Linked DNA regions of Homo sapiens: region 2 is linked to region 1. A link means that fine-mapping ties the variant in region 1 to the expression of a gene that starts in the linked region. Tissue or cell type: whole blood. Region 1 holds a variant in brackets; the other region holds the start of a gene. All regions are shown on one strand. Distances are between the middles of the regions.

Region 1 (8,102 bases):
CAGACCTGAAACCCAGGAATAATATTGCAGCAGGGTTTAGGTGACATCAGCTCTGGGAGGGAGAAAGAAGGCAAGACCACCTTCTCTAACAAGCAATGGCTAAAGACAACGCAGTTATCCCCCTAGGCCCTGTGCACCTCAGGCAACACAGCTGTAACTGGACTCACATTACTAGCACTATCATTAGCGGGGGATGAGAAAGGGCTCAGGCAACAGGATGCCGCTGCTGTATAATCCCAGGAATGCCAGCCAGGGGCAGTATAGTGATGGATAGTCAGGTGCTGGGGCCTAGAGGCCAACAGACCCGGGTTCAAATCCCAGCTCGGCCACTGACTAGCTGCTTTAACTCAGATTACTTAACCACCCTCTGCCTCAGTTTCCTTATCTGCAAAATGGGGGAAGAGGGGGATGTCTATTGCTGAAGACATCAGGCCTGCTATAATAGATTAACACTCATTGTCAGCCATCTCTATCATGAAAATTCCAGTCTCTTGTACTCTTTGAAAGCAGTTAGTCTGACTTGTTTATTGCTTTAAGATTCTTAAACACATTCCTGGATGACTCCATCTACATGGCATGTCCCAAGCTACCCTGGTGTATTCCTTGAAAATGGGCAAACGTAGACAAGGCCAGGCGTGGCTGGAACACACTCACACTGAAAGGATGGCTTTCCTGGCCCTTACTTTATTCTCAGGTCAAGAGCTGGGCACACCCGAGCCAAACTGTGCAACACGAACCTCTGAGCACAGTCTGTGCAGAAGAGGGAGGCAAACCAGGATGGGTAACAAGATGCACACAGCCTGAAGAAGCAAGCCGAGGAGAGGCCTGGCCCCCAGGCTGCAAGGGGAGCTACTCTCCAGACCTGGATAGTGGTGACATGGCTGAAAAAGACACACACACACGTGCGCACACGCACCTGTCACCTTGGACAAGCTCTAGCTGAACAGGGTGGGGATGCATCTCAAAATAAAGAGAGGCGGTATGCTGCCAAGCTCTCAAGAAATCAACTGACCACCCTTATTGAAGAAATTAGACAATGACAGCTAACTCCAACAAGGGTGACTATTATGCGCTAGACACTGCTTTAAGTGCTTTATGCGTACAGACAGCCCTTAGGATCTGTGGGTTCTGCATCCATAGATTCAACGGCAGATCAGAAATCTTTTTAAAAAAATGAATGGTTGCGGCTGGGTGCGGGGGCTCACACCTGTAATCCCAACACTTTGGGAGGCCGAGGCGGGCAGACCACAAGGTCAAGAGATCGAGACCATTCTGGCCAACATGGTGAAACCCTGTCTCTACTAAAAATACAACAATTAGCTGGGCATGGTGGTGTGCATCTGTAGTCCCAGCTACTCGGGAGGCTGAGGCAGGAGAATTGCATGAACCCGGGAGGCAGAGGTTGCAGTGAGCCAAGATTATGCCACTGCACTCCAGCCTGGTGACAGAGTGATACTCCATCTTAAAAAAAAAAAAAAGAATGGTTGCATCTGCATCTGTACTAAGGGGGCTTGAGAATCTGTGGATTTTGGTATCCTCAGGGGTTCCTGGGACCACTCCCCCATGGATACCAAGGGACAACTGAATTAACTCACTTAATCCTTGCAACAAACCTGTGAGAGACGCCCTATCACAACTATCCCCATTGTACAGAGGCGTAAACTGAGGATGAGGAACAGTCCCATGTCATGCGGCTAGTAAGTGGCAGAGCAAGAAACTGAACCCAGGAAGTTCAGCTGCTCAGCCCATGCTCTTAACCATGGGCTACATTACTTCCTTAAATGACTGAGACTTTTGGGGTGCCTACTGTCCATCAGGCCAATGCTGGGCATCTTGGTACAAATGTTCTCATTTATAAAAAAGGACTCAGAGGGTCAGGAAGCCAACCCAACGTCACCCAGCTGGTATGTGTCAGAGCCAACTTAAACTCATAAGAGGCTGATGCCCCACGCTGCCCCTCCAGGCTTGAGGCGCTGGGTCTGACCTTCCACAGTTTGAAGGCTGACCTTTCCCACTGTGCTCCACCAGCAGTGATGCAGATGGAGACATCACTGACCCAGAGCACACGAATACTGGTGAGGAGCCCCAGGGATGCTCTGCCACCTGATCAGAAGGAGGCCAGAACCTTCCAGAAAGCCTGTTGGAAAAGCAGCGCCTGGGAGAGAGTCCACCAGCTCCAACCTCTTTCCTAGCACAGTCCTCTCCTCCACAGCTGCCTGTAAGCCACATCCTACCCCGTCCCACCCGCTGACAAAGAACCAGAGCGAGGGCCTCCTGCTAGTTCTCCAGTTGCAAGGGCTCTCTGTGTTTAGCTTTCTGATGTAACAGCTCGAAGCGGAGATGCACGCACTCACTGTTGCATAAGACCCGATTTCGCTCACACAAACCTCAGGGCAAGTCAGTCTCAAGTGCTGCGGGCTGGAGCACAGGGTGGCCTCACAGAGCAGCCCGTACCTGAAAGTGCTCTGCCGCGCAGGACAACACATTCCCAAGGAGGCCAGTTCTCCCACGGCCTGTTCCCAGGTGACCCAGCTACCATAACCCTCCAGGTGGAGGATAGCTCACCCGCACTGAGAAAAACCGGGCAAACCCCACAGGGCTCTGCATCTCCTGCCCTCTGACCTTTGCAATTGGCCCCATCTAAGGACCACGTCAACCAGTGAGGATTATTAGCAGGACCAGACCCATCTTCAGATGTCTGAAATGCCTTTAAATTACAAAATCCTTGGATGTTCTAAGACAAGAAGGGCCTAAGGTCATCTCACAGAAATAGATGAAAAACTGATGAGGAAACTGAGGCCCAGAGAGGGACAACGACTTAGTCAAACTCACACAAAGTAGAAGGCAGTGCCAGGACGGTCTCCTGGTTCTGTCCAGCACTCTTTCCCCCATACTGGATGGCAGAAGTCCTGGGTTCAACCTGCTGTGAGCGAGTGGTCTAGCTGGTAACGCTGGTTCCCTATTTTTATTTAACAAACAGGGACTGTTTTGAGAAGTGTATAAAATGCTAACTCATTTCATCTGGGGAGGTGGGTGTTATTACTATCCCCAAGTGGAGATGAAAGAGAGATAAAGTAACTGTCCAGGGTGGGAGGTGAACCTAGGCAATGTTACTCCACCATCCAAACCTGAGCCTTGAGTGCCACAGTGGCCTTTGTCACTGCAGCTCCTCAGGGCGCTGCTGGCTATATGCTGAAGTGCTCTCTGGAGCTCAACAGCATGCCCCAAGCAGCTGCTCAGAGGAGCAGGGCTGAAGCCACCTCCAGCACAGCACACATCTCAGCAGCCCCACAGGAGGGGTTCTCCCCCAAGCACTCGCCCACAGAACACAGGGGCCAGATCTTCCATGACGGATCCGAGTGTGGGACCAGGCAGAAAATGGACTCAGGTATTCACTACACCCCCTCCAGAGACCTGCAACATGTGACCAGGGCCACCCCCTCAGCTTACTGTCAGGGGAAAAGGTTTGCCAGGCAGCCCCTTCAAAGGCGTGGCCTCCCCGTCACCTGCACCTTCTGTAACCCTGGGCCTGTGAGGCAGAAGGGGGCCGCCCTGCAGTGCCAAGGCCATGACCCAGCAGGCAGGACTCTGCACCTTTGTGCACAGCCTCCTCGAGGTTCAACATCTTGAGCTTTCTTCCTGAAAAAGGAAGCTGTTTCTCAACATATTGCTACACATGGAGACTGAGAAACACAAACCGAGAGGCGAATAGGGCACTGGCCCCAAGGGAGGAGAATGAAGCGGGGAAGGGCTGGTATGGGCCAGTCTGCCTGAGGTAACCAGCCAAAGGGACAAGGAAACGCCCAGCACAAACTTGTCCATCCC[G/A]ACATTGTTTACAAGAGGGACACAGTGCAAACAACCCAAAGCCCCAACAATGGAAGCACAGCTAAGGAGGTGATGGTAAAACCACTTACTAAACTATGACAGAGCCACTGAGCAGGTTTACAAAAACATAGGAAGTTTTTTGTGTTATTTTACTAAGCGACAGGCAGGACAAAAAAATCTACATGATGGATGGCAAGAACTACGTAAGCAAAACCTCGCACACAAAGTCTTTGCCTGGAAAACACAACTGAAAGAAAACACAGCAGAAATGTCATCTGTGAATGGGCTGATCTGAGTGGGAAGGCTATAGGTAATTATTTTCTTCCTTCTACTTTTCTGTGTTTTCCAAATGTTCTCTAATTACTGCGTACTGATTTTATAAGGCTATGAATGGGAATAATACATTTTAAAATGTCACAAGAGGAAAAGGGAGGGTGCTGGTGCTTCTCTTCTAGCAAAGGGAGAAAGGTCCAGGAGCCCACGGTAGACGTACTATTTGGAGCCGATCCCTGCTCAGGCCGCCATGCCCAGCCTCACCACTAAGGTCGGCTTTGCTGGTTACTCCATCTGCCCTGCTGGGTCTTTTTTTTTTCTTTTGAGACAGGGTCTCACTCTGTTGCTTAGGCTGGAGTGCGGTGGTGTAATCACGGCTCAGTGTAGCCTCGACCTCCCAGGCTCAAACGATCCTCCCACCGCAGCCTCCTGAGTACCCGGGACCACTGCCACACACAACTACACCCAACTAATTTTTGTATTTTTTGTACAGACAGGGTTTCACCATGTTGCCCAGGCTGGTCTCAAACTCCTGGGCTCCAGCGATCCACCCACATCAGCCACCCAAAGTGCTGGGACTGCGCCCAGCCCCTGCTGGGTCTTTAGATGGAGCAAAACCTCACTGATTCCAAAGGCAAAGATGCGGAAAGGAAGAGAGCAATTTCATAAGGTGGCATTAAACTCATTTTGCTGACGGGTGTGGGATGGGTTGGTTGGTTTGTTAAGAACAGTGTGTGTCCATCTATCCATCCATTCAAGAGTATCGAGTACCCACTAGTTACCCAGTATGGTGCCAAGGCCCTGCAAACAACACAGAAATGAATGACCCATCTCCTACCCTAAAGACCTCAGATTCAAGTGGGGGCCAAAGATATCAAGTTGCAATGCAAAAGTGTCTTTGACAAGGGTTTTCAGATACACACAGGCTGTGAGAATTCAGATATGAAAATTAAAGCTTCCAGCTTCAGAGAAAAGACGGGTGTCGGGAAAGAGTTCATGGAAAAGATGAGCTTTGAATTGGGTCTTGAAGAATGACTGGGGTTGCACAAACAAGTCAGTTAAACAGGCCAAGGAAATATACATGTTTATCTCAAAGGAAAGTTACCTCTGCCGGCAACCATAACAAACCTCCCACCTTAATAATAAGCAAGGAAATACAAAATGGAAACATATGGGCAGATGTTTGGCAACATTGGCAGAGGGACTCCCCAGTGTGGCTGTGGCAGGAGCATGGCAGGAGCGTGGAGCGGCATCGCCCCCCTGGAGGGCAGCAGAGAAACAGGATGATGCAACAGAAGCCTCACCAGGTGGCCCTCACCCCTTGAGCCAGACTCCACTTCTAGGAATTTATCCTAAAGAAACAATTAAGTGTAAGCATAAGCCTATTCACGGAAGTGTAACTTAAAATAGCCAAACATGGGGAAGTAGGTAACTACATTCTGGTGTGTCAATCACAGAACACTATGAGGCAACTTTTTTTTTTTAAGTCCCTTTTAACAGTGTACTTAATCATATGAGGCAATGCCCATAATCTTCTAGAAAGTTAACAACTCAAGGTAAGAAAACTACATTTGCAGTATGATCTTCACATATCTTTTTTATTTTAATTTAAGGCATTAATTTTCTTTTTTCAACTTTGAGGTCAATTTCTATTTTTATAGCAAAATTAACATCTCAAAATGTAAACACTGGAAAGTTTTATTATTTACTTTTTTGTATTTTTAAAGAACGGGTGTCATTTTTATAATCATAAAATGTTATCCAAACTGAAAGAATAATAAATGGAGTTTTTTTATCCAATAGGTTTTTGGGGAACAGGTGGTGTAAGTTTTGTTTTGGGATTTTTGTGGTTTTTTTTTCCAGTAGAGACAGGGTCTCTCTTGTCACCCAGGGTGAAGTGCAGTGGCATGACCGTAGCTCACTGCAACCTCACACTCCCAGGCTCAAGCAATCCTCCCACCTCAGCCTCCTGAGTAGCTGGGGTTACAGGTGAACACCACTATACCCAGCTAACTTTTTTTATTTTAATTTTTGTAGAGGCAGAGTCTCACCATCTTGCCCAGGCTGGTCTCAAGCTCCTGGGCTCAAGAGATCCTCCTTTCTCAGCCTCCCAAAGCACTGGGATTACAGACGTGAGCCACTATGCCTGGCCCAGAAATGGAGTTTCAATAGGAAGAGAAGAGGACATCCTCAGCTTAAAAAAACAGCAGGAGCCAGAAGTGAAGAAGTACAGGTCTCTCCTGGGAAGGAGAAAGAACTGAACATCATGATTAGACAGAGCTGGGCTCACATACTGGATCCACTCTTTTCTAGCGGTGTGACCTTTAACAAATTACTGATCCATTCCTGAGCTTCAGTTTCTTCCAAAGACCAAATGTGTTAAAGACTAAACGTGTTAACTTGGCCAGGCACAGTGGTTCACACCCGTAATCCCAGCACTTTGGGAGGTTGAGGTGGGCAGATCACCTGAGGTCAGGAGTTTGAGACCAGCCTGGCCAACATGGTGACACCCTCTCTCTACTAAAAATACAAAAATTAGCCAGGCATGGTGGCACGCACCTGTAATCCCAGCTACTCAGGAGGCTAAGGAACAAGAATTGCTTGAACCCCAGTAGGCAGAGGTCGCAGTGAGCCGTGATGGCACCACTGCACTCCAGCCTCGGCAACAGAGTGAGACTTCATCTCAAAAATAATAAAAAACAAAATAAATGCATTAACTTACACAGAATACCTACTCGATACACTAATTAGGTCATAGCCTTTTCTACTGACCAATAAAACAAATTCCATCCTGGATGACCCACAAGAGGTAGGGATGTTCATTTATGAGACACATAATCAATGTAATAACAGCATTTGGGGAGAGCAAAGAATTACTACATTAAAGACATCGTACAAAGCCTCCCAATTTCAGAAATATTAAACTATGAAATATATCCTAAAATCAAGAAACTATGAAAATTTGTGTCTTCTAAAGATACTGCTGACCAGGATAAAACATTTGGTGAAAGCCCAAGATATTATTGTTTTTCTCATGATTCTTATACAGTCTGATTTGTGCCCCAAACAAGAAGTCAGGCCGGGCATGGCTCACGCCTGTAATCCCAGCACTTTGCGAGGCCAAGGTGGGTGGATCACTTGAGGTCAGGAGTTCAAGGCCAGCCTGGCCAACATGGTAAAACCCCATCTCTACTAAAATACAAAAATTAGCCAGGCTTGGTGGCTGGTGCCTGTAGTCCCAGCTACTCGGGAGGCTGAGGCAGGAGAATCGCCAGGAGGCGGAGGTTGCAGTGAGCCAAGATCACGCCATTGCACTCTAGCCTAGGTGACAGAGCAAGACTTTGTCTCAAAAAAGAAAAAAAAGGGGGGGGGGGGGGCGGGTGTGCCACTGCAGTGTCTCCTTTTGTTATCCAGGCTGGAGTGCAGTGGTGCAAACATGGCTCACTGTAGCCTTGACCTCTTGGGCTTAAGCAGTCCTCCTACCTCAACTTCCCAAGTAGCTGGGATTACAGGATAGCTGGCGGCCAGGGGAAATATAGTGGAAAATGCAAAACAATGAAATTATAAAACCTGCCAAATACTTCTCAGAACTAGAAAAGAGTACCCTGCTGATTTTAGTAGAAAAGTACAAATATGTGCTGGAATGTAAGAAAAGTGATGTGTGAACTATTGCCCTTAAGCAATCAATGTACCTGCAGGCGCTGACCCACGAATGCAACTCTCAGCCGAGCTGTCCCTGCCGGATTTCAAACAGCTGAAGAAGGGCTGGGAGAACATCAAGGCTTGGACTAAAACAATTATGGCCCATGAAAGGAGAGAGAAGGTGAAAGGGAGCGTCAGCCCCCTCCTGAGTAACCAAGTCCTAGGGAAGGAGATCACCAGCATGCTGCTGGAGCAGCTCTACTTCCTGCAGAGCACTCCTTCCACCCCTCCCCCCGGAGGAGGAGCCCAAATACCACGCCACGGCCCAAGAATCATTTGCTGTTTCAAATAGAGAACTGTGC
Region 2 (8,096 bases), 75 kb after region 1:
CATCACAACCCAATTTCAGGCAGCAGCAGCCCATCCCTGGTCAGGGACCTCCACGGACATTTCACGTGCTGCTTCTCCCACTGAGTGTTTATTTAATGAAGGCCAGAGTGAGCTGGGGCTCCTCAGATTCTAGATAAGTCCGATGCAGTTGCACAGGCCAAGCCCTCCAGGTCAGATCCTTCTTCAAAAGCCAGGAATCCAGTGTTGCAAGCACAGTCTCTGGGGCCACGGCCTGGTGTGTGGGGAGCCCACAGAACAGGAAAGAACGCTGGAGTGGACACTGCCACTTGCCTGCCTGGCCCCAACACATGCTGCTGGCGGTGGACGGTCCCACCCAGCTTGCTGAGATTGTTTCCTGGCTTGTGTCACCCACCTGTATGAAATGAGAGGCAGCTGCAGAAGTACCTTTCCCTAAAATCCAGATTTACTGAACCCATAAAGTAGGGGGTTAAGTTTCCCTAGCAAGGGTCCAGTAGGGGTTAAGTTTCCCTAGTGGTGGCCTGTGCCATAAATGCTACTGGACCCTCACTAGGGGCAGCTGCCAGGCAGACTCTTTTCGTAGTATCAGCACGGACTGACAGACAAAATGCTGCAGGTGTGAGCAGTCTCGTTCCTATTTTACAGACAGGAGAGCTTGAGATTCAGAAGTCATGGGACTTGCCTAAGGTCACACAGACAGAACCCAGGCCCAGTATGAAAGCCATGGGGCTTCCTATTCACCACGCTGCTCCTATGGCAAAGATTCTTCTAATAAACTTAACCCCTATGTTATGGGTTCAGTAAATCTGGATTTTAGAACCATTCTTAAAGAGGGTTATTCTTAAACCAGGGTAGTATAAAAACAATCACAAACATTTGATTTCACCCAACCAAGTCTCCTTCTCTAACCTAGAGAATTTCGAGCTTCCAGAGCCCTCAGAGATCCACTCCAGCCTCCTTGTTTTGCAGGTGAGGAGGCTGAGGCCTCCGGGATGAAGTGACTCATCTAAACTAGCTGGTGGCAGCCCCATGGAACTCACTCCAGGGGTCTAAATTCCCATCCCCCAAAACAACCCAGGCCCTGCCTTTTCAGGAAGTGGAGTGAACCCGAATCCACATCACGGTGGGAAGAACAGGGAGCTGCAGATCCCCTGTGGGCCTTTGGATGGGTTCTCTGCTGCCAGGGATGATCGTCTAAACAAACACTCAGGAGGGAAGCCACTGAATAAACCAGCTCCAACACTTAAATAGCTGGATGCTCTGGGGTGTCATGAACGCCACACTGCCATCAAAATGAGGGACTCCGGAAGTTAGGGTAGGACAAAAGGCCATTCCAGAGAATGCACAGCAAGTGGTTCTCCTATATACACACTCTGGAAGCCAGGAGCACTTCAGAGCAACGTGGGGACAATCCCACAGAGGCCAACACAGAGAGCATTCTCCAAGCCCAGCAACACCGAAGTCCAACCACGCACACTCTGCCAGACAGCGACCCCTCCTCCCGGAACTGAGCCTCACAGGCCCCCTATTGTTGTCAGCTTAAAAACTGAACTTTGCTGAGCAAACACACTCAGCTGTGTTCAAAAAATCAGTTTCTCTCAATACTTGGAAAACTGCAGCATGCATGCAGAAAGGCCAGTTGTAGGGGGTTTTGTTTGTTTTTTAAGCAAAGCCTTGGTCAGTACAGCTTTAGCCAACTGTAATAAAAAATAATAATACCCAGCACTGACTGTATTCTTCCAATGTCCTGTGGTTTTATAGCTTTTAAGAAAATAAAACTGAGGGAGAGTCACCCCCGAGCATTTGGAATCAAACAAGGATTCGGCTTTGTGGCATGCCTGGAGGAAGGATTGGTCTTGTAATAATTACCGCGATCACAGAGGGCCTTATGACAGCTGGCAGAGGCAATTAGCAATAAGGGGCGGGGGGAGGGTTTGGGGGAGGAGAAATTGAGGATCTAATAAAACAAAACATCCCCAGACCTGCAGGAGGCCAGATGTGGCAGGGCAAGATGGTGAGAGGTTCCTTCTTCAAGACGGGGCAGCTATTAACTGGTCTGACGTTTCACCGCCCCGTCCCTGGCCAAAATCACATTCAGAATCCACTAGTTGCCCTCATTTGTGTATGGACAGGGTGCCCCAACAACCCTCGGGCTGGTTTTTCCAAATCCTTCAGATACTTCCCCAGCTATAATTTGAGAGAGGAAGGCCCGCATATCTTATTTCTTCTTTACACTCCAGACTGTCTCCATCAGAACCCTTTAAACAGTTTCATCTTCCCACCAAAGGCTTGCTTCCCAGCATAATCCTTCCTAAGCCTAAATCCAATCTTTGGGGGGAAGCAGGGGGAGTCAGCGGGTAATTATTAATACATTTTAAGCAGCGAGCCTCCGTGGCAACGTGAAAGGAAAGCACCAAACGCCTGAATAACAAAAATGCAGTTTCAGCAACACTTTTTGAAAAGGCGGCAGACAAGACCTGAGAGGAGAGGAAAGGAAGGGACAGGACGGCGTCTGGGGCGTGAGGGGAACAGGGGACGGCAGGCCTGCGATCACGCTTCAGGGGAACCTCCTCCGTCACCCTGGCCCACGGGTGCTCGGCTCAGTCACACGGGGAAAAGTCCAGCTTGTGACTCGGTGGGACAACGAGTCCTGCGGCCCCGCAAACTGGAAATGGGGTGGGGGCGGAGAAGGGGGGAAAGGGGATGTCCGCGCGCAGCCCACCCCGCACGGGCCCCTCGAGCCTCCATCCCAGTTCCCACGACGCACCCGCCCCACAAATCCTGCCCAAGATGAGGGCTGGTCCCGGGTCCTCCGGCTGCCGCATCAGCGAGTGCAGGAGGGAGGGGAAGCCTCCAAGGGGGGCGACGCGGGCTCAAGGATGCAACTCGGCCAGGAGTACTGGGGCCCGGAGGGAGGTGTCCGGGCCCGCTCCTCGAGCCCAGCCTGGTCCCCGACCCACTTACCTCCAGGGTCCGTATCTCCTGCTGGGTGAGGTCGTTGGACACAGCGCACTTGGTGCGCAGCCCGCGCAGGCTGCCGATGGAGATGTCGATGAGCTTCTGGAGCTGCCCGCACTGCTGCAGCGCCCGGCTGGCCGCGGCCCCTGCGCCTCCCTCCGCGGCCGCCGCATCCCCCCCGCCACCGCCCTCCTTCTTCTCTCCCATCGCCGCCGCGCGCAGCGCTGCTCTATCCATGCCTCGGCATCGGGGCCGCGGCGGCCGAGGCTGGGAGCCCGGGGCGCGGGCGCCTCGGCAAGGAACCCCCGAGCCAGGAGAGCTGGACCAGGAGCGCCCCTCGGCGCTGCCCGAGCCGGGACGCCGGTAGAGCCGGCCGCTGAGTCTGCCGCTTCCACCCTCCCAGCCGCGGCAGCAAAGCGAAAGCCGCGGCGACCCGACGGCTGCGGCTCCCGGAGCCTTTAAGCGGCGGCGGGGGCTGGGTCAGGGCGGCCGGGCATGCTGGGACTTGTAGTCCACGCCGCGCACCTGCCGCCGGCCTCCGCCCTCGGGGCCCCGGACCGCGCCCGCGCCGCCCTCCCTGCCCTCCTCTCCCCTCCCCTCCCGGCGGCCGCGGCGAGGCAGGCGGTGAGGGCCGGCCCCAACCGGGAGCCCCGGGTGGAGCTGCTCCGCGCCAGCTCCTCCCCCAGGCGCCGAGAGTCGGGGGAGCAGCGTCTCCCCGTCCGCCTCCGTCCCCCACCCGGCCTAGGAGCTTCCCGCGACCCCCGGATGGGGCGGCGCCCCCTGGACGCCCGGCGGGTGTGCGTCCCGCAGTTCCTCAGCTGCAGCCCAGCCCTGGAAGATGGGGACCAGGGAGGTTCCAGGATTTGTATGTGGGTTTAGGGGCTGCCATCTAGTGGGAAGGGGCTTACAGCACTTCTGTAGCTGGCTCACAAAGCGCTCTACTCTGGACTGCCTGCGCCAAAACGATTGCTCAGGCTTGGAGAAAGACGAAGAGCTTTCTTCTGAACCACATTTACCTGCCAAAATAAGTGTCCCATTCCCCCGCCATTCCCAGCCCACCAAGCCAGCCCAGACACGGGGGACAGCACACTGAATTGTCGGTGGCTTCGGAGCAAGTGGCCAGGATTCAAATTCTGACTCCACCACGGTCTAGGGTGAGACTTTGGGCACGTTCGATTTCCAGTGAATGCCCGACTCTCCTCATCAAATAACTCTTTAATAGGGTTCCTATGAAGAATCAGTTAATACATGTACAGCACCTAGATTGATTACTGGCACATGTGGTCGCTGGATAAATGTTAGCAATTCTTACTATCTAACCTCAGATCTGAATGTGGCCCTGGACCCAGGTAGTGGCCATGGAGCAGTACAGTACTGCCAAGGACTGGTAGTCCTTTGTCCTCTGTGCATTTCTGTGCCTCCTAACCCAGCAATCAAGCCTTGCCCATCTGTTCACCCTCCTCTCCCATTAGTTCACCCCATGCGTTCTATTATCTGGCAAAACTGAAAAACCAAGTCTCTGATCAAAGCTCCCACACCTTCATGCTTTCGACATCTGTCAACCAGAAAAAATGTCTCCCCTCTCAATTTTCTCTTGTAAGCTGCTTGATTGCAGAAGCCACTAGCTATTGTACCCTCTTTATAGTGCCAGATACAGTGCATGGCACACAAGAAAGGCTCCAGCGTGCCTCAGGAGCTCTTTCAGCAGGTCCTATGGGATGTTTCTTTTACCTCTCAGGCCAGCCGAGGGTGTGTGTGTGTGTGTAGATAGACAGTTGTTTTTTTGGTTTTGTTTTTGTGTTTGAGGATGAGAATTGGACAGGAGGTGGGATCCAAACCTTGTAGACACTAAAACAATCAATAATGGATGGCAGTTTGTATTACACCTTCCTTTAATGTTTATATTACACCAGCCTTCGAAATAAATTAAGGGCTGGGCACCGTGGCTCATGCCTGTAATGCCAGCACTTTTGAGAGGCCAAGGGGGAAGGATCACTTAAAGCCAGGAGTTCGAGACCAGCCTGGGCAATGTGACAAGACCCTGTCTCTAAAAAAAATAATAAATTTTTAAAAATCAGGTCTAGGAAGCAAAACTATAACTTTAAAACTTGTTTTTGCAAATTAACCCCTCCTCGAGATTTTCCAAATGCAAGGAGGTTCCTCCCTAACCCCTGGCCTTTCCCATTGAGAGTCATTGATCCAGTCCTCACTCAACTTATAAAAAGACCGCCTGCACGATATTATGAATTTCTCAACCTGTTACCTTAACCCCATCCGACTCCTTGCAAAGTAGTAACTATTATGAAAGGGAAACTAGTTGTGGTTCTCAAACTTGAACATGCATCAGAATCACTTGGAGGGCTTGTTAATTCCCAGAACCATGGAGCTCACCTCTATAGTTTCTAATTTTGTAGATCAGAGGACAGGGCAGGAGAATCTGCATTTCTATCAGGTTCTCAGGTGGTACTGATGTGGTTAGTCTGAGCCCAGTCGCAAGTCTATACTTTGAGAAGCCTAGGCACAGAGGAAGGTCAGTGGGCAGAGAACTATCTCAAGGGACTATCCACAACCCAACCTGGCTGGTTCAGAGCCTCTGTCCAGCAGCCAGAGCTGCCAGGCTTGAACGACTCACTCATTCTAACACAATTCACAAAAGATTTTTTTTTTTTTGAAACAGGGTCTTGCTCTGTCACTCAGGCTGGAGTACAGTAGCATGATCATGGCTCAGTGCAGCCTCGACCTCCCAGACTCAGGCGATCCTCCCACCCCAGCTTCCCAAGTAGCTGGGACTATAGGAGTGTGCCACCATGCCCGGCTAACGTTAACTTTTTTTTTTTTTTCCTTTTTTTTAGAAATGGAGTCTCTCTACGTTGCCCAGGCTGCTGGTCTCAAACTCTCGGGCTCAAGCAATCCTTCCCCTTCAGCCTCCTGAAGTGCTGGGATTATAGGCGTGAACTACCATGCCTGGCTCACAAGAAATGTTCTGGTAAGTGCCTATTTATGCACTTACATCAAACTTGTTATTGCCACAGGGACCTGGTCATCACATTCTCCCTCTAGGGCCACTTTATGTGGGAAGCCACATCCTGAGAAGAGCCACTGCCAGCTTGTGGCATTCATGCCCACCCATGTCACCACAGGGGTGATGTCAGAGCCTGAGACTGGACAAATGCCAGCTCCCTGGTTACTCTCCCGCCAGGTTCCATGCAGCGAGTCTGTCCTCTGTGGATACAGTCTTCCCTCTGATTATCCAGAGCATTCAGCAGGCCACAGTTTTCCTTCCTCACAGATGGCCTCCAGCCTTCTTGCCTGGATTTGAGTCATCTGTCAGCCACAAGTTTACAGAACTGCCCCTCAGAGGTGGAGAAACTTTTTTGTTTTTGTTTTTTGTTTTTAAGAGACAGGGATTTGCTCTGTTGCCCAGGTTGGAGTGCAGTGGTGCGAGAAAGCTCACTGCAGCCTCAAAAGTCCTGGGCTCAAGCCATCCTCCTGCCTCAGCCTCCTGAGTAGCTGGGACTACAGGTGCCTGCCACCGCATCTGACTAATTTTTAAATTTTTTGTAGGGACAGGGTCTTGCTGTGTCATGTAGACTGGTCTCAAACTCCTGTTCTTGGCCTCACTCTCCCAAAAGTGCTAGGATTACAGGCATGAGCCATGGCACCTGGCCGAAATAAGGATTTTTAAATAATCCCTTCATTCATCCTTTTAACATTCAGTAAGCATTCATGAAGTGCCACTTACATGGCAGGCCCTGTTCTGGGCTCTGGAAAAGGGTAGTGAACAAAATGAAGATTCTTACCCTTAGGGAATTTATGCTGTGGTGAGAGGAAACAGACAAGCAGATAAATGCACAGTGTGTCAGTGGTAACAGGTGGTATGGCACTGCAGGGAAGGGGACAGGGAATATGGCCTTTACAACTTCGAATAGAGCTGTTTTAGAGAGTAGGGTAGTCAGCTCTGTCTCTGAATCGCTGTATGACCTTTGACGAGTCTTATATGACCTCGGGCAAATCTCCTAATCTGGTAGCACAGCTTCTTATTTGCAAGATGGTGATAATGTTTTATGAGGATGAACAGATTATATAACACAAAGTAATGGTCATAAAATAAGGGTTCGGCATATTTATTTATTTGATAAATATTTACTGTATGTCTACTGAAACTGTTCCAAATGCTTAACTCATTGAACTATGCATTACTTTCTTCCTCACCTTCCAGAATGAATCTCTTCTAGTTAGATGAATTGATCTATTATGTGTTGATTCAGGGTTTCAGCATCATCTCCAGGTTCTTGAGGCTTTTTCTGAGGCACCTCAGTAGAGAAAGTTTGCTTACTCTCTCCTTCCTCTCCTCTGTCTCGGGTCCCTTCATTGCTTTTCCGAGCTTGTCTGCATCCAAACACCAACAGCAGCGGTGGGAGCATTTTCATGCACAGGCCCAAGAAACATGAAGAGGACACTTAGCATGCGCCAGGCTCTGGGGTAGGCTCAAAGCGAAGGAAGCCGAGTCCTTATCCCTGTGGAACATACATGAAGGGAAGGACAGGAAATGAATGTCAACAAATATATTACCAAAATAAACTGAGAATCATAAGTGCTACGCAGAAGAAGAAGAAAGCAAATAGCCGAGAGTCTCTGGTGGCTAAGGTACTTCACTAGGTGAAGTGGACAGAGAATTATTATCTGACCATTGAACTAAGATGTAAATAAGGAAAAGCAAGCCATGTGGAATGTTCCAGGAAAGGAGCACTCCAGGCAGTGGGAACATCATGTGCAAAGGCCCTGAGGTAGGAGCAGCTTGGCATACTCCAGGAACAAAGTGAAGGCCAGAGAAGCCATAGCAAGATGAGGGAGAGGAGCAAGGGCTGGAGATGATGTGGGAGAGCTATGCAGGGGCCAGATAAAGTGGGACATGGGAAGGAAGTTTGGGTTTTTCTCCAAGCCTTTGTTACTCCTAATGCGGTCCAGGAGCAGCAGCAACTGTATGGCCTGGGAGCTTATTAGAAACGCAGTCTTGAGCCCAACCCCAGATAACTGAATCACAAACTGCATCTTAGCAAAATTCCCACATGACCCAAAAATAGATTAAATTTTTAGAAACACGGTACTCTAAGAAAGTCACGTTCTTTTCAGGTGGAGAGTTTTAAAGATCCCTCAGG

Evidence for each region. PIP is the estimated chance that this variant, and not a neighbour inherited with it, causes the effect.
Region 2: it holds the start of KSR1, and the variant in region 1 is fine-mapped to the expression of KSR1 in whole blood (INTERVAL, PIP above 0.99).

What each region holds. Positions count from the first base shown.
Region 1 is chr17:27,526,765-27,534,866 of GRCh38, reverse strand. All of the region lies in intron 1 of KSR1 (kinase suppressor of ras 1), which reads right to left. It also overlaps the pseudogene MSANTD3P1. Among named protein-coding and RNA genes, the nearest start is that of KSR1, 74 kb to the right of the region's middle. RefSeq lists a silencer at 1,791-1,976. The variant G/A (reference allele first, on the strand shown) is at 3,826.
Region 2 is chr17:27,451,722-27,459,817 of GRCh38, reverse strand. KSR1 (kinase suppressor of ras 1) reads right to left here and starts at 3,370. Exons shown (of 21, transcript NM_001394583.1): 1 at 2,944-3,370. The coding sequence starts at 3,174. RefSeq lists silencers at 2,511-2,560, 3,081-3,840 and an enhancer at 3,204-3,705.